Linked DNA regions of Homo sapiens. The protein of the gene in region 3 interacts with the protein of the main gene of each other region in a pairwise test. Each region holds a gene or a part of one and is shown on either strand. Other genes may lie near its edges. The genes, in order: PPP1R12A, TLE1, ATXN10 and ZKSCAN5.

The links.
Region 1: the proteins of ATXN10 (region 3) and PPP1R12A interact in binary tests that used the Homo sapiens proteins (3 or more experiments, as listed by UniProt).
Region 2: the proteins of ATXN10 (region 3) and TLE1 interact in binary tests that used the Homo sapiens proteins (3 or more experiments, as listed by UniProt).
Region 4: the proteins of ATXN10 (region 3) and ZKSCAN5 interact in binary tests that used the Homo sapiens proteins (3 or more experiments, as listed by UniProt).

The regions. Positions count from the first base shown.
Region 1 is NC_000012.12:79,932,090-79,939,716, reverse strand, and holds the start of PPP1R12A (protein phosphatase 1 regulatory subunit 12A), read left to right. Parts: upstream 1-4,619; 5' UTR 4,620-4,785; coding exon 4,786-5,022; intron 5,023-7,627. UniProt on the Homo sapiens protein: Key regulator of protein phosphatase 1C (PPP1C). Mediates binding to myosin. As part of the PPP1C complex, involved in dephosphorylation of PLK1. Capable of inhibiting HIF1AN-dependent suppression of HIF1A activity.
Region 2 is NC_000009.12:81,609,543-81,616,567, forward strand, and holds part of TLE1 (transducin-like enhancer protein 1), read right to left. Parts: intron 6,593-7,025; coding exon 6,440-6,592; intron 3,980-6,439; coding exon 3,835-3,979; intron 2,852-3,834; coding exon of another isoform or gene 2,750-2,851; intron 2,418-2,749; coding exon 2,227-2,417; intron 755-2,226; coding exon 678-754; intron 1-677. UniProt on the Homo sapiens protein: Transcriptional corepressor that binds to a number of transcription factors. Inhibits NF-kappa-B-regulated gene expression. Inhibits the transcriptional activation mediated by FOXA2, and by CTNNB1 and TCF family members in Wnt signaling.
Region 3 is NC_000022.11:45,688,818-45,695,842, reverse strand, and holds part of ATXN10 (ataxin-10), read right to left. Parts: intron 6,132-7,025; coding exon 5,940-6,131; intron 2,848-5,939; coding exon 2,765-2,847; intron 1-2,764. UniProt on the Homo sapiens protein: May play a role in the regulation of cytokinesis. May play a role in signaling by stimulating protein glycosylation. Induces neuritogenesis by activating the Ras-MAP kinase pathway and is necessary for the survival of cerebellar neurons.
Region 4 is NC_000007.14:99,528,650-99,535,213, reverse strand, and holds the end of ZKSCAN5 (zinc finger protein with KRAB and SCAN domains 5), read right to left. Parts: intron 4,107-6,564; coding exon 2,965-4,106; 3' UTR 514-2,964; downstream 1-513. UniProt on the Homo sapiens protein: May be involved in transcriptional regulation.

The DNA.
Region 1 (7,627 bases), on a different chromosome or scaffold from region 3:
TGACTCTTATTTCTGAAATTCCTTCAGCACACAGATATTTTCATACAAATTGGCCTTCCTGCCAATGCCTTGCCTTGACACCTTGAGTTGGGGGTGCCACTAAGGCCTATCCTATAACCTTCACTTAATTAATCGTAATTATTATTACACATACTAATTAAAGTCAGTCAGTTTCCTAAAGTGTAGGACATGTAGACTGGTGGTACATGAGGTAATGTTATAAGGTAGATGTAACATTAAAACAACAGTGAAGCACTTAGCACAATATTCTTTTTTCACTACCTTTTAATCTTTCCGATTATGCTAAACTGAAAAATCTTAGGTTGATGCTCACATGTCCAACCCTTACCAATATCCCTTTTTTAACAAATTGAGAGCACAGCTTGGGCTCAGACCCTTGACAGACAACCTAACTAATGTTTTGTTTTCATTGTATTTGCTTTAACAGTCTTCTTTATGTCAAGTGGAAACGTTTTTCACTTACCAAAGCAACATAATGTTGCTTTAAAATAAATTTGTCTTAAAAAGGTTAAAGAAAACATTAAGCAAATACTAGTATTTGCGGTTCTTGAATTTGGCAATAAAACTGATAAAGTTTGGGAAACATTAATTCATATGAAAGGGGCATGTGATGTTCTGTCACATGATACAGGTTGGGAGTCATGTGCAATGGAGGTGAGTTATCTCTTTAGCAGTATAACTGCACTTTGGATTGTTGCCAGACACTCATCTGAGTCCTAGTTTTGGGGAACAAAAGAAGCTTTATGAGCATATTAGCCAGTACTTGTACTGTGATAGGGTTAGTTTCTTGAAATGGAGTCAGATGTGGCAGAAAATTTACCCTAAAGTAAATTAGAAACTCACCTTGTAATCCAGAGGCAAGGCAAAGATTAGATGCTATGATCTAGAAATCAGGATTGATCTAGCAATGGAGTCTGAAGCAAGTTAGGGTGGTTCCATGTTGGTTCTGGTCAACTCCCTGGGTAGGACTAAATAAATTATGATGTGAATGGATTGTAAACTTTTCTTCAAGTTCTTTTTTTTTTTCTTTTTGAGACAGAGTCTTGCTCTGTCACCCAGGCTGGAATGCAGTGGCACAATCTTGGCTCACTGCAACCTCCGCCTTCTGGTTCAAGTAATTCTCATGTATTCTCGGGTTCAGCCTCCCGAGTAGCTGAGATTACAGGCACGTGCCACCACGCCCAGCTAATTTTTGTATTTTTAGTAGAGACGGGGGTTTTGCCATGTTGGCCAGGCTGGTCTCGAACTACTAACCTCAGGTGATCTGCCCACGTGGGCCTCCCAAAGCCCTGGGATTACAGGCATGAGCCACCGTGCCCAGCCTTTTCTTCAGGTTCTTAAATAAAACATTGGAAAGAAATTATTATGCAATGGAAGAGAGTTTGGCCCAGGTGTAGAATACAGGAGACAGAAACAAGGTCCTTGTTGACTGTTCTATTCTCAAGTGTATAAATGTAAATTAGTATCTCAGGTTTAAATTAGGGATAAAGAGAACATAGATATATCAAAGTATTTATTAATATCTTATGTACATTTTTAACAAAGAGATTATAATAGCAGAAACAAATCTAAGCTGTGCATGTCAGCATTTCAAATATGTTTATAATTTAAATTAAGTTGATCATAATTAGCAAGCAAATTAATGGTAAGGAATGTCAGTAGTGTGATTAAACTTTGAAAAAGATATACACAGATCTCATTCTGACAATCTTGTGCATGTAATAAATAAAACCCCCAGCCAGGTACAGTGGCTCAAGCCTGTAATCCCAACACTTTAAGAAGCCAAGGCAGAGGATCACTTGAGCCCAGGAGTTTGAGACCAGCCTGGACAACATAGGTAGACCCCATCTTTACAAAACTTAAAAAATAAATTAGCTAAGCCTGGTGGTGCACGCGCCTGTAGTCTCAGCTACTTGGGAGGCTGAGATCATGCCTCTGCACTGCAGCCTGAGCGATAGAGTGAGACCCTGTCTCAGAAACAAAAACCTCCAATATGATTGATTTGGTGCAGCCAAAAATATATTTTTATATATACATATATGCAAATTAGTAAGTATAGTTTTATTTGTACTTCTATTTTAAGGCTTAATTTGCTTTAAAGGAGCTAAAATGTATCCTCACATCCCAATCTGTTTAGAAGCCATTAGGAAGTGAAAATATTTGCATTTTTTCCATTTGTTCTGCTTAGACAAATATGTAATAAAAGCATGTGTGTGTGTGTGTGTGTCTTTTTTTTTTTTTTTTGGTAAAGATAGGGTCTAGCTCTGTCGCTCAGGTTGTAGTGCAGAGAGCTCACTGCAGCCTCGAACTCCTGGGCAGAGTTCGCCTCAGCCTCTCAAAGTGATAGGATTACAGGTGTGAGCCACTGTGCTGGGACTGTGTGTGTCAATAAAAAATTTTGCTTGTTCTAGAATTAACCCAAGGTCTTCAGTACCATTAATTCACTAACAACAATTTAAAAAAAATCCTCCCTAAAGACAAAGTAGGTGGCAGTTTCAGAGTACTTTCAATATTAACATAGAGCATCTTGACCCTTAGAGCCACGAAAGAAGAAAAACTAAATTCAGTGAAATTTGCACATGATAGCAGCCCTCCTTGGTTGTTTTTTCCCTGACAGCTTCTGGGAACTGAATGAACTTAATTATGTTTTATTAATAAACTATTATTAATTTTGCATCCTGAAATAAGTGCTTGAATCAGGAATAGCATACTTCCCACTAAATTCCTTTTGCCTGAATGAAATCTTCAGATTCCCATCTATACTGCAAGGGCACTTTAAGAGCTACCACATAGGCCATAACGTTCTTGGAAAACAGGATATGCTGTCAGTTGCCTAGGTAGAGACAGGAGCTGACAAGGCAATCCTCAAGTTCCTTTCTTTTATTCTGAGAGCTGTATTCTGTGGATAGGGATTTTGTATTTTAGTGCTAACAATGTTTTTCAGTACCTAACACCATGAGTATTCAAAGGTCTGATGTTATCTTTAATGTATGTAATGAACATACAATGGTATATCTTATGAATATTACATTCATTTTCTATTCCTACAACGTTTTCAGAGGAAATATTTTTACCCTGACCTGGATTCTATCGCTATCCTAATAACTGTGGTTCAGAAAATTGTCTCACAGGCAGACAGTTTCCTAATCACGTTTTACTCAATTATTTTATTTCTCAATATGATAGGCTGTGAAGTAGTCCACTGGAAAAGGCATCATGCTGAGAGTAAGAAAAGCTTATTTGTTCACTGCTCTATCTCCAGCACCTAGAACAATGCCTGACCCAGAACAGGTGCATAGTATTTGCTGAGTGAATTCTAATCCTACTTCTGGGTAAAATTAAGTAAATTAATTAGTTCTTGAGGGACTCTGTCTAGATGACCCCTAAACTTCCATGGTAAGGTTTTGTGGTTTTTATCTTGGCTTTTCTAAATGCTCTAAAAATAGTAGTGGATGGTAACAATGCAGTGTTCAGTAAAATCAATTGGTGGAGATTGTAGATAGATGGCTCATAAGACATCAGTATTACAAATCCTATGTGTGTGCGCGTGTGGTCATACAAGGCAAAGTTAAAGTCTTTTTTTTATGACGATGATAAATTAGTCTTGTTTGGGCGACTGAACTCAAGAGGTGGTTCAAATAAATGTCATATTTTTCATTGTATCTTCAGTGCCTAGTACAGTTACTGGCTCATAGTAGGTATTCAATAAATAGTGGTTGAATTAATTGCCTTCCTTAACGTTCCGTTTAAATGCTAGACGCAGCTAGGTCTTTACCCCTCCTTAGAAAGAGATGGAGCTGTAACCAGAAATCCCTTAAAAGGTAAGGACCAGTAATCAGGCTGAGCTAAGCTCATGGGTAGTACGAGACAGGCTTAAAGCACTGAAGGAAGAAAGAAGAGAACCCAAGCGTGAGAGAAAGCAAAACAAAACAAGTAAAGAGAGGAAGAAAAACATTTCTAAAGTGGGGGTTGGCAGGAAGCCACAGCAATTACAGCAGGTCAACCCTTGTCAATAGGTGGTCACCTCAAGAACTTACCATTAAAACCCTCGGCCACACAGACCCCACTTTTAAAAGGTTATTAATTCTGACATGCCCAAGTTCATCTGAGTTCCTTAGAAAGATCAACCAGCAGCACCTACTTCACGACCTATCCTCCATTCCATTCAAATAACGCGGCCAATAGGAAAATCCTCCGCCCTGAGCCAACGACTCGGCGTAGCTGAGACAGCACGGGAGGCAGATCTGCCCTGTAGAGCCTTGCGGTTCCACTGCTGGCCTCCGGATTCCCGGGAGCCCCCAGCCCGACAGGACAACCTTCCTTCCCCGCTTCCTCCTTTCCAGGTCTGTCCCAGCCCCCGCTGCCTGGGCCACACCCGCTTCCCTCTGGTGGCCCAGCCACCACCGCCGCAGTTCGCGGGAGCGCTCTTCCTGGGGCGGGCACAGGCCCAGGGCGCATGCGCACTGGTCGAAGGGCGCCTCCCAGTCCGGATCTCGCGAAGTTACGTTAGATTGGCCGCCGGTGACGGGTGGCCGTGCTGGGGGCGGGAGGGCTTCTGTGGTAGGAAGGGAGGTCCGCTCGGCCGGGTGCGCCGCCCCAGTGCTCTGTGGGATACTGGAAGTCTCGAGCGTCGGCTCCGGGTTCCCAGCCCTCCTCTGGCCCGCACTCATAGAAACATTCACACACCCCCTGCCTCCCCTCTCTTCCCTCTCCGCCTCCCCCTTCCCCCCCTCGCGATAAGAAGACCCGGCGGCAGGAGAGGGGATGAAGATGGCGGACGCGAAGCAGAAGCGGAACGAGCAGCTGAAACGCTGGATCGGCTCCGAGACGGACCTCGAGCCTCCGGTGGTGAAGCGCCAGAAGACCAAGGTGAAGTTCGACGATGGCGCCGTCTTCCTGGCTGCTTGCTCCAGCGGCGACACGGACGAGGTCCTCAAGCTGCTGCACCGCGGCGCCGACATCAATTACGCCAATGTGGACGGACTCACTGCCCTGCACCAGGTCTGTGCGCCCCGCCGCCGGCTCTCCTGACCGTGAGGGTTCTCGTCGGCCTCCTGCTCGGGCCTGCCCTCAGTTCTCCACCTCTTGAGGCTGGGGGCGGCGGGAGACTCCCTGCTGCGGGGTGAGGGGGCGGTTTCCCCAGAGGGCGGGAGGGAGAGCTGGTGGAAGGGAGGGCGCTGGGCTTGAGGCCCCCCTTCAGAACAGTTGCTGGTGGAGTTGGGAACCGGGTGATTTCCGGGGCATAGGGGAAAAGGAACTGTGGTCGTTTGGGGCCCCAGGGCCATTCGTGGATAAGTCTGGGATTTGGGGTCGAGACAAGGAGGGGTGTAGTGGGGTTGTGCCTGGGCCCCGGTGTCAGTGGTATATTCGGAGGGGTGGATGCTGAAGGAAGAAAACTAACAAGGGGCATTACGGACGGTTAGGCAGATGAACATCTTTGACTTGTAGGTGGGCATTGGATTTGTTGCACTTTTTAGGACTTGATTACAAATGATGATAATAATAGTAATCTAGAGCCCTAAGCCGAGTGCCCTGAACGAACGATTTCCTGTTTTCTCATTTATTACTCTTGGTCACTGGGGAGGGGAAAACAGGGTGTAATTAGCTGATCTGCACCGGCTGAAAGGAAGGGGATGGAAGTGGGTAGAGTAAGGAAGCCCTCTAAAGGGCTTGCCCACCTCCGGACCGGAACGTGTTGAGTCTGATACTCGAAGTTTGCCGCAGTGTCAGAGATCCTTGAGCCCCAGGTCCTCGGGTGTGCACTGGTGTTAGAAAGAGAAGAATAAATAGGGGACACTCTTTTCAAAGCCGGTTACCAAGCTCTGGTTTTTCTTTTGGGGTTGGGAAAAAAGAAAGCTGGTCACAAACTTTTCTCAAAATGGATGCTTTGTGCATATTAAAGTTTTATAGTAGTCTGATTGGGATCTCTCAATGTTAGCCAAATAAGGAGAAACTATTGGCAATCCAGAGATAATGTTGCCTTGCCTTTAACAGGCCAAAAGCAACACAACCACGTAGAGTTATGCATAAAAAGCAATTTTTAAGTGACGGTAATAGGTGACAAAACATAGGCTTTTTCTATTTTCTTAGCGGGCAACTTGGAATAACTGTAATAGAAAATGACTTTGCAGCGATAGCTTCCCCTTAACAATGAAAAGACTTGTAAGCTATCTCAAAGTTGCCTTGGTTGTGTGTGGAAGATGCATAGCCTTATTTTGAATAATGTTGTAGTAAAAACTTGTTTGGGAGGTTGAAACTCAAGGCTTTATATTTCATGAATATTAACTTGATGCCTTTTAAAAAAAAGGTGTGTAGTGACATTTTTCCTTGTCCTGCTTACTGTTTAAGGGAGTGATGACCATTTTAAATTTTGTGTAATGGAATTCTCTTATCAGACTTGGAGTATAGCCTTTGTTTACAAAGTTGACTGGATATATTGAAATGATTGACACATTGCAGGACAAATATGGAATTAAAAATGTGGCACCCAGTAAAAATATAGCAGGGTGTCTAGCGCTTTCTCAATTTCATTAATTTAGATTCTCTAATGCATAGCAAACTTTTTATTTGGGTGAAGTTTATTTAAGGCATATCATAACTCGTAAAATTTTAAAACCATGGTGTTGAGAATGAAGGAAACTTTTGGCATTAAAAATGATAATGTAATTATATAAGATGAATCTTCAAATTTCTTTCAAGTGTACTTTACACGTTTTAGTGTGAAACAGATTTTGAAAGACGATTATTACTGTAGGAGGTCAGGATAATTGGATAATGGTTCGCATCAATATGTTTTATTCAAATTGTCAAATAGAAATTTAAAGTTACTATTGTTGTGGAGGAACCCAGTTGTATTGGCTTAGAGGAAGACGAAAAGTTTTGATATTTACATTATTGTGATACTGGTTTAGGGAGGAAGAGAAAATACATTTAACTGCCTTCTTAAGATCTTTTTTTCTCCTCTCAATATTCACACGTTACAAGAATTGTCAGACTTACCAATGTCTTCCTGATTAACTGAATTCAGTGGTCAGTTTGGTGTTGTGTAGATATATCTTTATTGGGTATTTTGTTTTAGTTGACAAACAGAAGTTTCTAAATTTACTCCATTTGCGTAATATCTTTCTGTCACTTTTTGTCACTGTGAGTGTGGGTTTGACCCGATAATCTCCAACCGCCTCCCCTTTTCCATAACATTTTTCCATATCTGCAAATGCCTTAAATCGGTGAAGCCAAAGTCTTTAAAATATCAAGCATTAAAAATTTGTGTTATGTTTTCTTCACTCTCATTTCTTATTTATCAACTCTTGTACTTTTTTCCCATTGTTACTATGAAAACAGGGAGTTCACTTTGGGCAAATTTAGGACAACAGTTAGTGAAAGACAATAAATAAAATTAAAAACCACACACACACAAGAAAATTTTAAGCCTTTAAGAAATCTCTTGAACTTAGCTTGTTTTCCATACTTAATTGTAAAAACTAAAATCACTGATTTAATAGTCCTTGAATAGTTCTTTAAAACTTTAACCTCTCAAAAGATCGTAGAATACCTAAAATGTATAACGGGGTTAATTGTTGATTGTTTTTTGAATATTCATTTACTT
Region 2 (7,025 bases), on a different chromosome or scaffold from region 3:
GTGACCCAGGAAGAATAGCCAATTGAGTTTTTTTAAATTCCAATTCTTTTGTGCACTGGACACAAAATGAACATTAACTTTTCCTGCTTCCCCACGAAGCCACTTTGCTTTTTATAATTCTAGATCTCTTGGAGCACTCATCAAAACTTTACTTGGGGGTAAACCTGGGGTGCTGGCATCCAACACAACCTACCCTTCAAATAACTCTTGTTTCCACCAAAATAAGAAAAAGGTGGCACAGAGCTGAGTAAAGAGATGACACATTTCAAAAAAGTGTCTAAGCCTGCAAGAGTTCGTGACAGCTGACTGCCCACAGCACAGCACTGTTGGGAATCTCCAGCAGCTGCCCTCTAGCCAAATGGCAGAGCAGAGCAGAGCAGCTTTCTGAGGGGTCAGGCGAAGAGGGCCAGCCACCTCCAGCTCTTTCCTCCCACCTCGTCCTCATCTCCAACAGTTTCTCTCCAGAAATAACTAAGGAGATCACCCCCAGGGAGAAGACAGAGGCATGACACCTACAAGCTGCCTATTTATAGAAAGTGTTAACACTCCTCAGGAAAAGACACCAGAAATCTCCTTGGAAACGCCCAAGCCTGTACTCCCTTTGGAATTCTAGTCTGCTAATACCAATGACTGAGTAACCACCTTTAAAACAAAACCAAGGTCTTTGAGGTACTTACGGTTTCCCCCCAGGGATTCCTGCCAGGTTTGGAGGAATGGTAGGTACTCTCATGTGAGGGGGAGGATCAAACCCCACCTGGAAACAAAAATAAGGCATTGCAGACTCAGTTTATTGCAGCAGGCACTTTGTGAACATCAATACTGTTCATTAGAAACTCACAGATCCCCAAAGCAACATAAATGGGAACAGTAACATGGCCTAGTGTTTTTCTTTTTAATTACTATGCAAGAGGTAATATAAGCACCCCTGAACGCCACAAGACCCACTTCCTTTTTGGGAGGTAGAGAGGAGATGTGATCTATTTGTGCACTGAGAACCACTTCCCCATGGTAAATACTTCCCTTAGACTTGCAAGCAAGTTCACAGAGCAGTATGTTGTATTAGGATTTCTCAACCTCAGCACTATTGACATTTGGGGCCAAACAGTTCTTTTCTTTGTTAGGGGCCGTCCTGGGCGTTGCAGGATGCTGAATATCATTCCTGGCCCCTACTGTTTATGTGCCAAGAGGAATCCATACCTGCCCCCCCTCCCACCCCCAGTTATGATAATCAAAAGTGTCTCCAGATATTATCAAATGTCCTCAAGGGACAAAATCATCCCCAGTTGCATACATGGGTCTAATTTAATGCTTAAGGATTCATACATGGATTCCCTACTTTGTGCAGCGTTAAGGACAGCATGTAGTCTCTCAGCTGACCACCTTACTTTCAACACTTTGCCCGCCACTGCACAGCCTCTCCTACAAGTGCAATATCAGGAAAAACAAATGAATCTTAATGTCACCGCAAACTAGTGGAGGTAATGCTATGTGAAGAGGGGACAAGAGAGAAAGGTAGAGGACATTTTTCAAACAGCCAAGAGAAATGACGGTGGGACTTTATACCCTTAATGCAATCAACGATCACAGAGCCAATTCTACCCTTCAAATGCAGTTTTGTTTCTTCTTGTTCAAAAATTAGATCATTTGCACAGTGGCAAGAGGCAGGGCAAACAGACGAGAGACAGCCTGCCCCCGTGGTTCAGTCTGTCCAGAATTCTACCTGTTTACAGAGACCACTGCTTATATATAAGTCATGCTATTGGGTTTAAAGTGTAACATAGGCATAGAAAGAGAAAGCGATGGCTTCTCAGACATTTTTTCCTAAGGTTTAATGAGAAAAAAAAAGTTCAAGAAAATGAATGAAAAGGCTTCTGTGAACCACTCGAATCATTTCATCGCCTTCAAATAAAAAAAATCGACTTTGGTGGGAGAAAACCAGATGTCCCCTGAACCACTGAAGGAGCTTCTAAACACTGCCTTTTTCATCCACAAAAACACTAAAACAAAAAACGTTTGGCCCTCACTTAATGAAGCAGCATGCTGATGAAAGCTGACAAGAGGAAGGTGAGTGTGTGGCTGGGAGACTGGGCGTCTTTGTCTCCGAGGTGTGTGGGGCTGGCTGCTCCTGCCCACGCAGCGCAGAGAGGCCTGGCCCCAAACCTGACAGCGCTCAATGGAGCATGCAGCGTTCCTACCCCAACCACAGCCCACCCGACAGCGGCCTACCATGGGGGAGCGCCCGTAGGCCACCACGGCGGCCGCGGCGGCTGCGGCGCTCATCTGGGGCGACATGTTGTGTAAACTGGCGTAGGCAGCGCCTGGGCTGGTCAGCTCGCCGTTCATGCCAGCGTGGGGGACCATCCCAAAAGGAGCAGGATATGGGCCGGGCACTGCCAGGGGTGTCCTCAAGCCAGCTGCTGAAAGGAAACACAAGCCGCACATCATTCAACTGACCCACTCCATCAAACCTGACCAGCAAGTCTGGCCTCATCATTTGTTAGTGTCACTCATGGGGAGAGAGAAAGAGGTAAGGCTTCTAGGGGAGGGGGAAAATCACCTCCAATTTATACACTGGATCCCTCCTTCCCCAGAGCGAATGCATCTCCAGGAAAGAAAAGACTCCAGGGGAAGCACAACCCACACATTTTCTCATTTGTGTAAATGGCAGCACCAGGAAGCCAGGGGAATTAAGAGTATTCCCTACCCAATTTACAGAGGGCAAACCAAGGCACAGGCACCAAGTGTTTACCTGACTTAATCTCAAAAGAAGATTTTCTCGATAAAATCCAAGATTTCTCTTTCAGTCCGAACTTTCCATTCCCTGGTACCAATTCCAAATGAAAATCCAATCCTGGATTTACGTAAACCAAAGCACGGGTTTAGGAGGAATATTCTGTTGCCTATTTTCCTTTGGGCCCAGGTTGTTGCTTTTTTCCTTTCCCACTGGGGAATATCAGGTTGCAAATTATGAGTTTTTTAAGGGCTGGAGTCGCAGAGAAACCCTCCTAATTTCTACTGCAGGAGAGACCACTGATTCCTGAAGCCTCCCCTAGCAGAAAACCAGCAAACTATAGTCTGCAAGGAGCACGGTTGGGCCAGCCAAACCGCTGTTTCAGCCAGTATTAGCAAAGTCAGACGCACAATGCTAGTTAGGTGGGGAGGCTTGTGTTCAAAATAATTATCAGAAACTTTACTGAAGTCCCTAGGATTTGAATTATTTAAAACTAAAAGAAGGCTGGGCAAGGTAGCTCACGCCTGTAATCCCAGCACTTTGGGAGGCCGAGATGGGCAGATCACCTGAGGTCAGGAGTTTGAGACCAGCCTGGCCAACATGGTGAAACCCCGTCTCTACTAAAAATACAAAAATTAGCCAGGCGTGGTGGCAGGCGCCTGTAATCCCAGCTCTTTAGGAGGCTCAGGCAAGAGAATCGCTTGAACCCAGGAGGCAGAGGTTGCAGTGAGCTGAGATCCCGCCATTGCATTCCAGCCTGGGGGGGACAAGAGCAAGACTTTCGTCTCAAAGCCCAGGAGGCAGAGGTTGCAGTGAGCTGAGATCACGCCATTGCATTCCAGCCTGGGGGGACAAGAGCGAGACTTCGTCTCAAGAAAAAAAGAAAAGCTGAATGTAAACAGTTGGAGACTGAACAGAGTGCAGCTGCTGAAACCCCAGGACAAACATCTGTTTCTTATCATGGCTTTTTCAGAGATAGGAAGGAGGGTGGCCCTACGTACATTTCATATTTGTAGGGCAATTGCGTCACAACATTAACAGACAACAAATCAAGCTGGGAATGGGAGAAACCAAACAAAGCACAACAAGAGGCGATGCTGTACCCGCTTGGTTAACGAGGGGGTCTATGGCTGGAGGCTTGCCGAGACCTGGACGGAGGCCTGGAGTGGCGCTGGTGCCCGGCGTTGGCATGTCGCTCCGAGGCGTTGGTGTGCTGGATTTCAGAACAGGCGTGCTGGCTTTTTCATGCTGGTGTCATTAAACAAATTAAATGAGTATTATTTTTAATCCAAGCCATATTACACAATTTATCACAACAGCAGCTGGGACACTGGGCACCTTCTAGCTACTCCCTCAGCCAATTTTCATAAATCCACACAATGTTGACAGCATTAACTTGTGAGCGAGAAATGTTGACCTTTCCTCTTCCTGCCAGAATTAAAACTCGAGCTAGAGACACAGAACATGATCACACTTCTTCCTCCGCAGATTTTATTTTAAAAGTATTTTCCATCAGCCTTGTGGACTTTGGGTCTACGCCAAGTTAGAAAGATGACCACCCAGAGAATATTTCCCAGGCACTCAGAAACACATGTCCTGGCCGCCAAGTCCAAGGAAGACCCCTTTTCTTTTCTTTTTTTTTTTTTTTTTTTGAGATGGAGTCTCACTCTGTCACCCAAGCTGGAGTGCAGTGGCGCAATCTCGGCCTACTACAAGCTCCGCCTCCCGGGTTCACGCCATTCTCCTGCCTCTGCCTCCTGAGTAGCTGGGACTACAGGTGCCCGCCACCATGCCCAGCTAATTTTTTTGTATTTTTAGTGGAGACGGGGTTTCACCATGTTAGCCAGGATGGTCTCGATCTCCTGACCTCGTGATCCACCCGCCTTGGCCTCCCAAAGTGCTGGGATTACAGGCCTGAGCCACCGCGCCAGGCCAGAAGACCCCTTTTCAAGTCTCCTTTTTAGGTAGCCCTGGGATTGAGACAAATGGTGAGAGAGAGTGGGGCCAGTATCTCAGAGACAAAAGCCCCAGGGCTAACCTTACCAATATGCCTAAAAAGAACAACACTTTGGAGTTAAGAGTCACTGCCCACTTGCCTACATAACCAAAGTGGACCCACCAGTGCAGATCAGAGACTGAACACCAGCAAGGGGCCTTTCGGAGACCAGACAGTAACAGGGTTACAGGGCACCTTCTCTGGCCTTTCAACCTTTCATGTGCTTTACAACACAGTCCAAGAACCACTACAGCGTGGCAAAGAGCACGGGCTAAAGAGAGCTCTTTCTGACCTTGGATCATGAGCCACGGCTGTGTAGCCTTGTTAAGTTATTCATCCCTCCCAACCGGTAAAATGGGATAATGCCTACCGGGACCAGGTAAGGATTAACTGAAGGGTTGTTATGAAATGTTATTGTTAAAAGATGATGCAGTCTACAAAGTTTGATTGAATGAGTGACCACATGAGTGGGTTCTGATGCACCAGTTCCTGGCTTCCCCTGGGGCCTCCTTTGTGCATCACTGATCTGACGAGCTCCATAATATCGGGGCATGCTCTATGACATGCCCCGATATTAAGGATCAGTCTACCAGGTAAATGACCAGCCTAAGAAAATGAAGACTTAAGAATCTCGGAAGTTTGAGGCCAGGTGCGGTGGCTCACACCTGTAATCCCAGCACTTTGGGAGGCCAAGGCAGGCAGATTGCCTGAGGTCAGGAGTTCAAGACCAGCATGGCCAACATGAAACCCTGTAATAAGCCAAGATTGCACCACTGCACTCCAGCCTGGGTGACAGAGTGAGACTCCATCTCAAAAAAAAAAAAAAAAAAAAAAAAAAAAAAAAAAAAAAAAGAAGAAGAAGAAGAAGGCAATGAACATGGATGCGTGTACACCCTCTCTAATGTATGGTGGTACCAGGCGTGGTGGTGAGTGCCTGTAATCCCAGCTACTGGGGAGGCTGAGGCAGGAGAATTGTTTGAACCTGGGAGGTGGAGGTTGCAGTGTGCCGAGATCACGCCACTGCACTCCAGCCTGGGCAACAGAGTGAGACTCCGTCTCAGAAAAAAAAAAAAAGAATCTCAGAAGTTTGAACCATTTGTCAACTGGGAAGTTTCAGAGAGCTGTGTGGCAAGAACATATCCCCCAAGTAAGACGGCAATGAGGCTGGGCTTGTAATCCCAACACTTTGGGAGGCTGAGGCGGGTGGATCAAAGAGGTCAGGAGTTCAAGACCAGCCTGACAAACATGGCAAAACCCCATCTCTACTAAAAATACAAAAAAAAAAAAAAAAAAATTAGCTGGGCATGGTCGCGCGCGCCTGTAATCCCAGCTACTCAGGGGGCAGAGGCAGGAGAATCGCTTGAACCCAGGAGGCAGAGGCTGCAGTGAGCTGAGACTGCACCACTGCACTCTAGCCTGGATGATGGAGTGAGACTCCGTCTCAAAAAAAAAAAAAAAAAGAAGAAGAAGAAGAAGAAGGCAATGAACACAGATGCGTGTACACCCTCTAATCATGGCCGAAAAGAGATGACTGAGGGGAAAAAGTAAACCCTGAATGGTGACAAAGAACAGAAGGATGAGTTTCACTATTAAACTCTTAAAAATACAACCCTCAAGCAGCAAAACCCCCACATTTCCAATACTTCAGAGTCCTCCAGTCCACAATGAAAAATACACTGCCAAACAGGCAAGTGTCAGTTTTCTTTACCTACCAAGCTCATTTCTTTGGATTTCAAAGAAGTGGAACTTGCCGAGGAGGCCGTGGAAGCTGGACTGCTAGAAGCATCCTTCTTTAGCAGGCGATTTTTGTCGATTCCATTTTCCCGGGGCGAGTGGGCAGGGCTTGCTCGCGGAGAAGAAGGGTCCTCAACAAGCATAATCAAAAGTTTTCGTGATTTAGCTTGTAACAGACAGACTTTTCCCTTTCCACACTCATTCTCTAAATTTAAGGACAGAGCTGAAAGTCCTTCGGGTTGGGGTTGTACAAGGTGACCAACACCATGTTATAAATGAGCAATATGGTGTCGGCAAACATACCTGCAAACATGCCATAAAAAAAAAACCCCGCAGTCATATCCCTCTTTGTGCCTCATGCTTAAGAACTTTGCCTAGAGGGCACTGGAAGGAAAGGGGAGCCAAACATCCAACTTAGGCATTCAAAATGTCTAGAGAAATATCTTTTTTTAAAGGAAATAAAACTTTATGTCAGTTAGACCATTATTGCTCCATACATGAGCAACCATTAACTTCTTAATGTAAGAAGTTGCAAGAGGTCCCCCCACCGAGGGGCTCTACTTC
Region 3 (7,025 bases):
ATCTACCAAGAGAAGCACACATATTAACATCAATAGAAATATGCCTCACGTGGCCAGGTGCGGTGGTTCATGCCTGTAATCCCAGCACTTTGAGAGGCCGAGGTGGGTAGATTATGAGGTCAGGAGTTCAAGACCTGCCTGGCCAAGGTGAAACCCCATCTCTAATAAAAAAATACAAAAAATCAGCCGAGTGCGGCGGCAGGCGCCTGTAATCCCAGCTACTCGGGAGGCTGAGGCAGGAGAATCGCTTGAACCCGGCGGGAAGGCGGTGGTTGCAGCGAGCCAATATCGCACCACTGCACTCCAGCCTGGGCGACAGAGTAAGACTCCATCTCAAAAAAAAAAAAAGAAATATGCCTCATGTTATATGCAAAGTACAGGCATTAAAACTGTATATAAAACAATTTGTAAGTCAAATAATATTTTAAATGCAACTGGAGACTTCTCATTTAAAGGTTATATTCATTGAATTATAAGGTAAAGACGTTATTACAATGACAATTTTTTTTTTTTTTTTTGAGGTGGAGTCTCGCTCTGTCGCCCAGGCTGGAGTTCAGTGGCGGCAATCTCGGCTCACTGCAAGCTCTGCCTCCTGGGTGCATGCCATTCTCCTGCCTCAGCCTCCCCAGTAGCTGGGACTACAGGTGCCCACCACCATGCCCGGCTAATTTTTTGTATTTTTACTAGAGACGGGGTTTCACCGTGTTAGCCAGGTAGATCTCCTGACCTCGTGATCCGCCCACTTCAGCCTCCCAAAGTGCTGGGATTACAGGCGTGAGCCACTGCGCCCAGCCAACAACAACAAAATTTAACCTATAATTTAGTACATCTAACTTATCCACCTGGAAATTTACATTAAAATTTTCTGGGGTTTTGTTTTTTTTTTTTTTTTTTTTTTTTTTGAGACAGAGTCTTGCTCTGTCACCCAGGCTGGAGTGCAGCGGCGTGATCTCAGCTCACTGCAACTTCCACCTCCCAGGCTCAAGCAATCTTCCTACCTCAGCCTCCAAGTAGCTGCGACTACAGGCGTGTGCCACCATGCCCGGTTCTTTTTTTTTTCGAGACAGAATTTCACTCTTGTCACCCAGGCTGGAGTGCAATGGCACGATCTCGGCTCACTACAACCTCCATCTCCTAGGTTCAATCAACTCTCCTGCCTCAGCCTCCTGAGTAGCTGGGATCACAAGCATGCGCCATCACACCCAGCTAATTTTTGTATTTTTAGTAGAGAGGGGGTTTCACCATGTTGGCCAGGCTGGTCTTGAACTCCTGACCTCAAATGATCCGCCCGCCTCAGCCTCCCAAAGTGCTGGGATTACAGGCTTGAGCCACTGCACCCAGCCTTTGTATTTTTTTGGAAACGGGGTTTCACCATGTTACCCAGGCTGGTCTCAAACACCTGAGCTCAAGCAATCTGTCCACCTTGGCCTCTCCAAGTGCTAGAATTACAGGCATGAGCCACGGCACCCAGCCTACATTAAGATTTTTTTATCAAATAATTTAGGTTTACCCATAAAGTATTTCAATTCCTGGCACAAAGAGATCATAAATTAAAAATCTACGTTTTTTTTTTAAACATTATGTTAAGATAATAACCACTGTCCAAAGGAAAGATGTTGATGCTAGAAGAACAAAGACCAAAACCATTCTACTAATGAGTCTAAAGAAGTGTGGTGTTTCTCTTAATCCCAAGTCAACAACCGTTAACAATCAGAGCTAAGTTCCATTTTCATCACACTAGATACTTGACTTAGACACTTAACATGTGGTTCCCCTCAACGGAATGTGAGTTCTCTAAGGACAGACACTTTTTGTCTGTTTTGGTCACTGTTTGAATCACACCCAAAACCTGGACCAGGGCCTGTCACATTCATAAATATTAAAAGTCTTACCACAGACTGAATGGCTTAAACAACAGACATTTATTTTTACACAGTTCTGGTGGCTGGAGGTCCAAGATCAAGGTGTCGAGAGGGCTGATTTCTTCTGAGGTCTCGCTCCTTGGCCTGTAGATGGTCATCTTCTCCCTGTGTCTTCACATGGTCTCTACTCTGAGCATGGCCATGTCCTAATTTCCTCTTCCTATAAGGATACCAGTCATATACCCTCATTTTACCTTAATTACCTCTTTAAAGATCCTATCTCCAAATTCAGTCACATTCTGGGTATTGGGGGTTAGGACCATGCTATGATCTGAATATCTGTGCCCCTCCGAAATTCCTATGCTGAAATCTAATCCCCAACTTGCTAGTATAAGATGGGGCCTTTGGGAAGTGACTAGGTCATGATGGTGCAGCCCTCGTGAATGGGATTAGTGCCCTTATAAAAGGGGCCCAGAGAGCTTGTTTATGCCTTCTGCCTTCCACCTTCCACCACAGGAGAACAAAGCAAGAGGCACCATCTATGAAGACGAGAGCAGCCCCCGCAAAACACCCAATCTGCTGGTACCTTAATCTTGGACTTTCCAGCCTCCAGAACTGTAAGCAATACATTTCTGTTGTTTATAAACTACCCAGCCTAAGGCATTTTGTTATAGCAACTGGAACAGACAGACTTCAACATACAAATGTGAAAGGAACAAAATTCAGCCATTCAGGAAGGGAAGTTGATACAACTTTATAATTCTTTAATAATTCACTATTAAAGTTTCCCTATCTCATGAAATACAGAACATGTGTTTCAATGAATGATGTTAATACTCAAAGTACTGGTTTTGAACCCTTTATAAAGATATAAATAATCCATGAATTATATTGCATGCTACCTGTCAACAGAGATTCCTGTTCCACTCGCAGTTCACGAAACAGAAGAATCAAATCAACAGCAACACCAATCGTATCCAAGTTCCTGGGTTTTTTAAAAAAGACAAAATTAGACATGTTCATTCATTCATATATTGTCTATGGCTGTTTTTGCACTACAATGGGAGAGCTGAGAAATCTGACAGAGATTACAAAGCCTAAATTATTTATTATCTGGCTCTTTACAGGAAAAATATAGCAACCCTAGCAGTAGAGGTTATATTTACATGCAGAGCTAACTGCTTCCAACAGCTTTCTTTGAGTACTTCCTGAAGTTTCCCATGACTCAGATTCTTTGCTTTATTGTATTTTACCCCATTCCATGCATTCTTGGCAAAAACAGTCCCAGTCCACACAAAGTGCAAAAGATGTAAAAAGATCTAGGCTTTAATAGCATCACACCTTTTGATGAACTCTTTAACGACTTAAAGTAAAACATCAGAAAAATATGTACTAGTTGCAATCTGAATCTTGACTGGCTCAGAAATACTGGCCTTAGTTAAGCTTGGCCACAAAGTCTTTACTAGAATCTTTGTAGTATTTCTAACTAGAAAATTCTTTTCTGAAAATTGCTGCCCTAAATGGTTGAAATTTTCCTTTAAAAATCAACAGTGAATAATAATACAATCCTAGAAGGGAAGAGGCAGAAAAATTAACACCCTTAAATGTTCATTTTCATTTCCGCCCAACCATAAGTTGCATGCAATAAAAAGATATCACAAACAGCACAGCCCTTGCTTTGCTGGCCCTACCAAAAGACCACCGATAACTTACTTGTCATAGTATTTATTTTTGTAATGTTAGAATTTTTATAGTTTGCATATATTACTCAAAAAAGAAAATAAAAATTGACTGCTTTGAAAGAAAGTATTAACATAAACTTGTGTTGTACATTCATTCCTGAGGCAGAGGCAGAAACATTTAATGTTTACTGAGCACACAATGTGCATTAGGCATTTACATAAGTAATCTCATTTACACCCCATAACCAGCCTGTTTGGAAGACATTGCTTACCTAGTTTTACAGAGGACAAAACTGATACTCAGGAAGACCAAGTCACCTGTCCAGGGTCAAGATGGAGCAGTCATCCACAACAAGACCAGTGTGTAAGGCTCAGGACAGCAAGGGTAGACTGCATTTTTTTTTTTGAGACGGAGTCTCACTCTGTTGCCCAGGCTGAAGTGCAGTAGCCCAATCTTGGCTCACTGCAACCTCCGCTTTCCCCGTTCAAGTGATTCTCCTGCCTCAGCCTCCAGAGTAGCTGGGACTACAGGTGTGTGCCACCACACCCAGCTAATTTTTTATTTTTAGTAGAGACAGGGTTTCACCATGCTGGCCAGGCTGGTCTCGAACTCCTGACCTCATGATTCACCCGCCTCGGCCTCCCAAAGTGTTGGGATTACAGGCGTGAGCCACCGCGCCTGGCCCAGACTGCTTTTGAGCTTAAGCTCAGAACAGTAAGGGCAGACTGCTTGTTAAGCTTAAGCTTTAGAGTCAGATGTCTGGATATGGAGAGAATGTTCCCAGCCTCTCTCACTTAACAAGTGACTCTCAGACAAGTTATTTAACCTCTCCAAGTTACAGTTTCATCTTTTGTAAAAATGAAAAAATTTCTTGAGTTTGTTCTAAGAATTAAAGAAGATACTACAAGCAAAACCCTTGGGACAAAGCCCAATGCCGAAGGCAGGCTCAACGAATGCTCACTCCCTTCCCCACCAAGATTAGCCAAGCACAAAGGTGTATCTGCCAGCCACAGTCAAAAGTTAGTTCTACGGCTCTCCTTTCCTTCCCCATCACACTAGAGCACCTTGTGACTGGAAAAGGACAAAAGAAACTAGCCTTCTGGCCAGATGCTTCTAGCATATAACTAGTTATGTTTTAGAATGTAGACTATTATTATCAAGATTATTGTTGTTTCTATCCATTTATCCTCAAATGGATGGCAGGTTTGGTTTAGTATTGAAGTTACACGACTCACTTTTTACCCTCTCTCCTTTGATCTTAAAAATCTCATTAATCATATCAAAGCCTCGGGTATATGTGTCTAACCGAAGGGAGTCCCTCAAGTGGCTTCTGGACCAGCCCAAGCTTACCCGTCACAGTGGTGACAGGGAAGCCTGGAGGCTCTGTCTACATCCAAGTCCAGGAAGGAAAGTGAGCATCCTGTTTGTGGCTTCTGACTTCAAGTAAAAATTTTTAATAAAAAGCAGGTTCCACAAAATCAAAGAAGAAAGATGCTGTGTTCTGGGAGGAGACGGTAACACGTAAAAGCAAAGAAGAGCACTGGACAGCTCGCCTGCTCATGTTTTAACTACTTTTAAAAATGTGCGCATCATAAAATAGGTGGAAGCAGAGCTTGGAACTTTACATGATCTTTAGGAAAGACAGGTCATCTTGTAAATTTACAAAATATGCTTCTTGTCCAAACACAAGAGTAACAAATTAAAACATTAAAAGTAATTAAAACATTTACAACCTGAGGTCAAGAACTGCATATAAACTTAGGCAGGTAAAATCTAGGAACAAAGACTCAAAATCAGCTTCAAAACACTATGAAGAACCAAATACCTCAAAACATGTGATAAAAACAAACAAGAAATCTAACCCCTAATGTTAAACACACTCCATTATTTTATACACTAGTCAGAGAGACTCCAATGGCAAGGCCTGTAGAGGGCCTCTCCCAGCAGATGTAAAGGGCAATCCTGCAATAACAGTGGGTGATACTATCATGCCAGAACAACTTTTTTTTTTTTTTTTTCCCTGAGACAGGGTCTCACAATGTGGCCCAGCCTGCAGCAATGGCATCATCTCAGATTACTGCAACCTCTGCCTCTCCCTGGCCCAAGCAATCCTCCCACCTCAGTCTCCTGAGCAGTTGGGACTACAGGTGTGCGCCACCATGTCCAGCTAATTTTTTGTATTTTTTTTGTAGAGACAGGGTCTCACCATGTTGCCCAGGCCGGTCTTGAACTCCTGGACTCAAGCAATCCTCCTGCCTCAGCCTCCCAAAATGCTGGGATTACAGGCATGAGCCACCTTACCCAGCCCAAAACAACTTCTAACAGATAAACCAAATGACAGAACCAGCATGCACATATACAAAGAAACAGAATCCAAGGTACGTGTGTAACTACCTGATTGAATTCTGGTTCACAGAACACTCTATGCAAGCATTGCGAAGACACCTGAAGCATTCTGTTATTAACTGCAGACTGGAAGCCAGGTTTTCCACTTGGGATGGATCTCTGCAGGCAAGCTCAACAGCATGAGAAGATTTCTTTAGGATATCCAGAACTCTTTGGAAGATAGTCCTGGGTGCTGTTTCTCTGAAAAAGGATAAAATTATCACGAATCAGAAAAAAAAGATTATGATTTCCAAATGTCCTATTCAGAAAACTGCTTTTATCTACTATTGTGGGGAGGTACGCTACGTTTATCTGCTTTAGCTCCTTAATTTACAACACCAAATAAAAGATCTACACATATTGAGCACTTACTATGCACCAGACACTGTTCTTGTCACTTCTCATGTATTATCTCAGTCTCTGCAACAGCCTTATGAGGCCAACACTGTCCTCTCCATTTACAGATAAGGTAAGTGAAGTAGAGATGGTAAGTAACTTGCACAAATCACTCAGCCAGTAACTGGCAGAGACACAAGGCCAAGTGAAGCACTCTGGCCTGAGCACTTCCACTACCCATGACAACCCAAATCCCAGTTCCAGTGACTGCTCATGCTTATGGATCTACCCTGAATCAGAACAGAGTATCTTTATTTAATGTTCTAGACAGAGAATATATTCTGGTCCTCTGTCACCCAATATGTAGCTAAGTTCAGTTATAAGAAACAATATTCCTGTAGGACAAGGATACTATCTACTCTGTAGACACAGTGAGGCTGACAACACACACACCAAACTTCTACAGTCAACTACATAGATGGGAGAGAAAGGAGAGGGGGAGAATGTAAAGTGTGCCTGTTCTTCCACCAAGAATGTATGCCCAGGGAGAAAGATGAACCTGTGGTTGTACCCTCTGGGCATCTCAGTCTCTGCGTGCCTCTCATGCCAGGAGTACTGCCTGCACTGGCTATCATTCCAGAGCTCTAAAGATAAGAATTTTTTGTGCAACATTGCACCTAAATGCAAGCCAACTTCCTCATTCCATAAATCCCCTAAAGAAACAGCAAATCTCTTTTAACGTTAGAAGGAAAGTTGCCA
Region 4 (6,564 bases), on a different chromosome or scaffold from region 3:
CTGTCTCAAAAAACAAAAAACAAACAAACAATGGTCCCCATGGCCACATGCCCACTGCTGCACCTCTGGCTGTAATGTGAATGGTCTGGGGTGATGTTATATAATAACCAGCCCCTGCAAACCAGGATAGCCACTACCAAGCTTCTCAGTGATGCTGATGGCCCCCCAACCAGGGCATTCCTTGGAACCTTGGTAAACAGAATGCTCTCCAGACCCTCCTAAGGAACATAACTGAAGGTGGGTTGCTTGGTCTTATCTTCTAGTTCCATCCTAGTTTGTGTATGTATGAATCTTTGGATCCCTTTGTTAAGTCTGCCATGGTTTTGTCATCTCTACGTCATTTAATGTGGGCCACTGACTTTTCTAAGCTTTCAAGAATCACTCCAAGGCCAGGTGCAGTAGCTCATGCCTGTAATCCCAACATTTGGGAGGCCAAGGCTGGAGGATCACTTGAGCCCAGGAGTTCGAGACCACTCTGGGCAGCATAGGGAGATACCATCTCTCCAAAAAATGTTTTTTTTTTTTTTTTTTTTTTTTTTAGACACTGTCGCTCTGTCAACTGGGCTAGAGTGCAGTGGCGTGATCTCAGCTCACTGCAACCTCTGCCTCCCGGGTTCAAGCGATTCTCCTGCCTCAGCCTCTGGAGTAGCTGGGACTATAGGCATGCGCCACTATGCCCAGCTAATTTTTGTATTTTAAGTAGAGACCGGGTTTCACCATGTTGGTTGGCCAGGATGGTTTCGATCTCTTGACCTCGTGATCTGCCCGCCTCAGCCTCCCAAAGTGCTGGGTTTATAGGCATGAGCCACCGCGCCCAGCTAAAGTATGTTTTTTAAAAATTAGCCACTCATGGTGGCATGTGCCTGTAGTCCCAGCTATTCAGGAGGCTGAGGTGGCTAGACCACTTGAGCCCGGGAGGTCAAGGCTGCAGTGAGCTGTGATTGCACCACTGCACTCTAGCCTGGGCAGCAGAGCAAGACCCTGTCTATAAAAAAATTAAAAAGCTACCAAGAAGGTCCTCTGACACACACTTGGCATTAAATTGGTGGTTATTTGCCCTGTCATTTTCTTCTCTTCAAGGATTCAGTGACTTTCAGCAAGAGCCACCCAATTCCATAATCTTTATTTTCCTGTTTGTCCCAAACCTCTACAAGTCAATAGATCGCTTTCCACCTGTATCTCATCCCAGTTCCCCACAAGTGAATGACTTAGTGACTGGACAGGTACCACATGCCAGGACTATTAACAGTGATGCGGGTCTTCACTCCCTCCTGGCGAGTGACCAACTCCACAATCCACTCTCACAGCAGCTTCCTATGACCACTTGTGGCACCAAATGTCTTAGATCAGGTTCTCTAAAGCAGAGCCTGAGACAGGGATTCAGAACCATGTGATTGACAGTGTGATTTATTTGGGAAACGCCTTTGAGGGAGGGAATGAAACAGGATAGAGAAGGGAGAGAGCTTAGCACGGATGAAGGCTCAGAAAAAGTCTAGCTTGGCCTGATCCAAGGGTGCCAGAGCAGTCATAGCACCCTGGAGTTTTCTCCGCTTTAATCAAATGAACCAGGTGTTGGGGTGTAGAGAGGAAGTGACTCCTGGGTGAGGTGAGATGGCTCTCATCTCCTGAGGGCAATTCTCCAGTTTCTGGAGAACAAGAGCTGTGAGCACTTGCAGCCCAAACTCAGAGCAGCTGGGGATGGGGGTCTCAGCTTGGTAGAGGGGACTGGACAGGGCACCACAGTGTACAACACATATGGTCAACAAATATTTATTGGGCATTTATTGTAAGCCAGGCAAGTCAGCAGAAACGGCCTGAGCAGTGCCCAAGAGCACTCACTCACTCTCCCTAGCAAACAGGCTCAGAACTCTCTCACACATGTCATCCTCTTTCCCACTCAAAACTCCCACCCCAACCTTCCTGGAAGGCAGGGCTAACAGGACCTCCTGCCTGCCTGCTCACGACTGATTACTTTCAATCCCAGCTGCAATGCAAACTGAAACTCATTCTGTATATCACCACTCTACAGGAGAGGTCTATTTCTGGGGCACCCAGAAGTCAGCACACATACTGCTGGGACCAGGACTCGTAATTCGCCTTGGTCCAACTCCTTCTATGGGTTTAGCTGCCCTCATTCCTGTGGGTAATACAAGATCAAACAGTCCACAACTTTGCCTGTCTTCTCTGCTCCCCTAAGGTCCCTCTCCCTTCGCCGTAAGATGTGACTGACCAGTACAGTTTCTCCTGAATTGACAAACTGAACTACTCCTTCTACCGGCTAAACCCTGACATCAGTAGAATCAAACCAAAAACAAGGTAGAGTGTTTCACAGAGAAGTGGTGGATTGAATAAGGCAGCAGAAACACATACCATCCAGCCCCTGAACCTGAATTTTGCCAAAACAGAGATACTTTAAGTCCATTTCTTTTCAAAGGGGTTAATGCTCAAAGTGGGAATAGTGACTAGGGTATTCTAGTGGTTGGAATAATAATTTCTAGAAAAGGTTCATTGCTGAGGTACCAAAACAGACATCATGCTAAGGAATTCTTTTACTGTGCGCTTCCCTGAATAGATACGCCGTCAAACAAGGCAGAAGCTACAAATAAAGCTTACTTCTACTGAACTCATGAAGCTGTTCCTAGTGTCAGTTTTGAGTTTCAAGTGAAGACTGAATGTCAACTGCAGGCTTTCCGAATTCCTCGACCATGTCCATCCATGGATTCTCTTCTTGTCTAGATTTCCAAGCATGAAGATGCTAACTAAAGCATTTCTCAATGGGGAACACGAAAAGATTTCTATTATTGTGGGTTCTCCGGTGTTCCTAAAGGCTGAGTTATAACTAAAGGATTTCAACCTATTTGTGAGTTTGATGGTAACGCTGGAAAAATGCTTGAAGTTGTTACTTTGCTCATTATAGGAGTATGGTTTCCCTCCAGGAAGGTTTCTCTAAAATTAAGAGCTATTCTACAACAGAGACCCCTCTACACTTAAGGTATTTATGGGATCTGTCCTCTCATGGCTTCTCAGGTGTTTAAAGAGGCTACAACTCCAGCTGAAATTCATTCCACATTCTTTACATTGAAAAGGTTTCTCACCAGTATGGATTCTCTGATGTTGATTAAGATGTGACTTCAGAGTGAAGCCTCTGCCACATTCATGACATTGATGGGATTTTGTGCTGGAGTAGATTTTTTGATGTTGTTTGGTGTGGGAACACTGGCCAACATTTTCTCTACATATATCACATTGATAGGGCTTCTCTGCTGTATGAGTTCTGTAATGCTGAATGAGGTCTGAGCTATAACCAAAGGCTTTTCCACAGATATCACACTGATAAGGCTGCTCTTGTAACTCAATCTTCTTGTCTTCAATCACTGTCAAGTTCCAACTATATGCTTCCTCACAGATGCCATTTTTTTCATTTTTCTGACCCATGTGGAGCACCTGATGTTCAATTAGGCTAACGTACTGAAAAAAGATTTCCCCACATTCACGACACTGATGGGATTTCTCTCGGGAGTGGAGTCGAAGATGTCCAGCCAGGTGGGAACGCCTCCCAAAGCCTTTCCCACATTCGTTACACTTGAAGGGTCTCTCCCCACTGTGCACGCTCTGATGCTGAACAAGGTGGGACCTCACTCTGAAGGCTTTCCCACATAAGGGACAGGTGTAGGGCTTCTCACCTGTGTGGACGCGCTGATGCTGAGTTAGGTGCACGCGTTGGTTGTAGCTTTTCCCACATTCCTCACACCTGAATGGTTTCTCCCCAGTGTGTATTCTTTGATGTTGAATAAGATGTGCACTCTGAATGAAGCTTTTCCCACACTCGTTACATTTATGTGGTCTCTCTCCAGTGGAGGATTTTTTGTGGACATATGGGACTTCACTGTAGTTCATCCTCTTTGAAGATGGTTGTCCTAGTATCTCTTTCATGGGAATTCCCTGCTTTCTATCCAGCTTGCCTTGAAACTCACAGCCTTCTCCAAAATCTTGAACTTGAGAAACATTTCTTTGGGTTTTTCCAGATAGTTCCATGTCTGCTTCTGAATATTCTGAAATTTTCTTCTTAACACTTAATTTTGTGTTCTTACTTCTTTTGTCACTGCCTAAAAAAAATAAAGAGCAAGTGAAAATGTCATCAGTTCTTTTTTTTTTTTGAGATGGGGTCTTGCTCTGTCGCCCAGGCTAGAGTGCAATGATGCGATCTCGGCTCACTGCAACCTCTGCCTCCTGGGTTCAAGTGATTCTCCTGCCTCAGCCTCTCAAGTAGCTGAGACTACAGGCGTGCATGACCACACCCAGCTAATTTTTGTATGTTTAGTAGAGATGGGGTTTTGCCATGTTGGCCAGGCTGGTCTCAAACTCCTGACTTTGGGTGATCCACCCGCCTCAGCCTCCCAAAGTGCTGGGATTACAGGTTTAAGCCACCGTGCCTGGCCCATCAGTTCTTTTATAAAGGAAAAATAAACTGTCATAAAAAATGTTCATCAGATGAAACTATGATGTAACGGGAGTAACAGAGGTGGATGTGTGTGTGTACTTGATGCCAACAGGAATGTAAACAACAAACTTTTGGAATTTTCTGACGAAAAGAGCAAGACTCATCCACAGGATGGCAGAAAATATTTGCAAACTATGCATCAGACAAAGGACTAATATCCAGAATCTACAAGTAACTCTAACAAGTCAACAAGAAAAAAAAAATCCCATCAAAAAGTAGGCAAATGACATGGAGACAGTTCTCAAAATAATATATACAAATGACCAACAAACATGAAAAAAATGCTGAACATCACTAATCATCAGGAAGGTGCAAATTAAAGCCACAATAAGGTACTGCCTTACTCCTGCAAGAATGGCCATTATTAAGAAGTCAAAAGGCCGGGCGTGGTGGCTCACACCTGTAATCCCAGCACTATGGGAGGCCGAGGCGGGCAGATCACCTGAGGTCAGGAGTTCGAAACCAGCCTGGCCAACATGGTGAAACCCACATCTCTACTAAAAATACAAAAATTAGCTGGGCATGGTGGCGGGCGCCTGTAATCCCAGCTACTCAGGAGGCTGAGGCAGGAGAATCGCTTGAACCCAGGAGGCTGAGGTTGCAGTGAGCCGAGACTGCGCCATTGCACTCCAGCCTGGGCAACAGCAAGACTCCATCTCAAAAAAAAAAAAAAAAAAAGGCCGGGTGCAGGTGGCTCACGCCTGTAATCCCAGAACTTTGGGAAGCCGAGGTGGGTGGATCACGAGGTCAGGAATTCAAGACCAGCCTGACCAAGACAGTGAAACCCCATCTCTACTAAAAATACAAAAATTAGCTGGGCATGGTGGTGGGTGCCCTGTAATCACAGCTACTCCAGAGGCTGAGGCAGAGAATTGCTTGAACCCAAGAGGCAGAGGTTGCAGTGAGCCAAGATTGCGCCACTGCACTCCAGCCTGGGCAACACAGCGAGACTCCATCTCAAAAAAAACAAAGAAGTCAAAAAACAATAGATGTTGGCATGGATGTGGTGAAAAGGGAACGCTTATACATTGCTGGTGAGAGATAAATTAATACAACTTCTGTGGATAACAGTATGGAGACTTCTTCAAGAACCAGAAGTAGATCTGCCATTTGATCCAGCAATTCCACAACTGGGTATATCTACACAAAGGAAAAGACAATATACCAAAAAGACTGTAAGCGCCTGTCTTCTGCAGCACAATTCACAACTGCAAAGATATGGAGCCAATCTAAGTGCCCGTTGAGCAATGAGTTGATAAAGAAAATGTAGCAGGCTGGGTGTGGTGACTCGTGCCTATAATCCCAGCACTTTGGGAGGCTGAGGCAGGTGGATCACCTGAGGTCAGGAGTTCAAGACCAGCCTGACCAACATGGTAAAACCTCATCTCTACTAAACATACAAAAATTAGCAAGGGATCGTGGTAGGTGCCTGTAGTCCCAGCTACTCGGGAGGCTGAGGCAGAAGAATCGCCTGAACCCAGGAGGCAGAAGCTGCAGTGAGTTGAGATCACATCACTGCACTCCAGCCTGGGTGACAGAGTGAGACTCCATCTCAAAAAAGAAAAACAAAAAACAAATACATAACTGGGTGGTGAGAACTGACAAAAACTGGAAGAATGAGAGTGAAGGATGATGAAGAGGGTATGCAGTCAGGGAATATCTGACTAGGAGTCAGGAAATAAGGCAAAATGAGCCAACAAGAAGCATTGTCAGAGGGTGGGTGATACAGCAATCCCTGCCCCCTTCACCCTTAGCCAACATTCTAGCCTCAGTTTTCCTCCCCCGGCATGTCATCCTTCTCCTTTGGGAATGCTCATCACCTTTACTATCTGCTACCCCCACCAGACCATCGGCTGCATGAGAGCATGGACTGTATCTCTGTTCTGGTCACTGCAGATCCTGTGCAACTAGCAACACAGACTCTCAATAATATGGCTGGATGTGCAAAACATGTATTCCCCCTTTGATCCAGAAAAATGAGGGAGGACCGGGCATGGTGGCTCACACCTGTAACTCCTAGCACTTGTGGAGGCCAAGGCTGGAGGATCGCTTAAGCCTAGAAG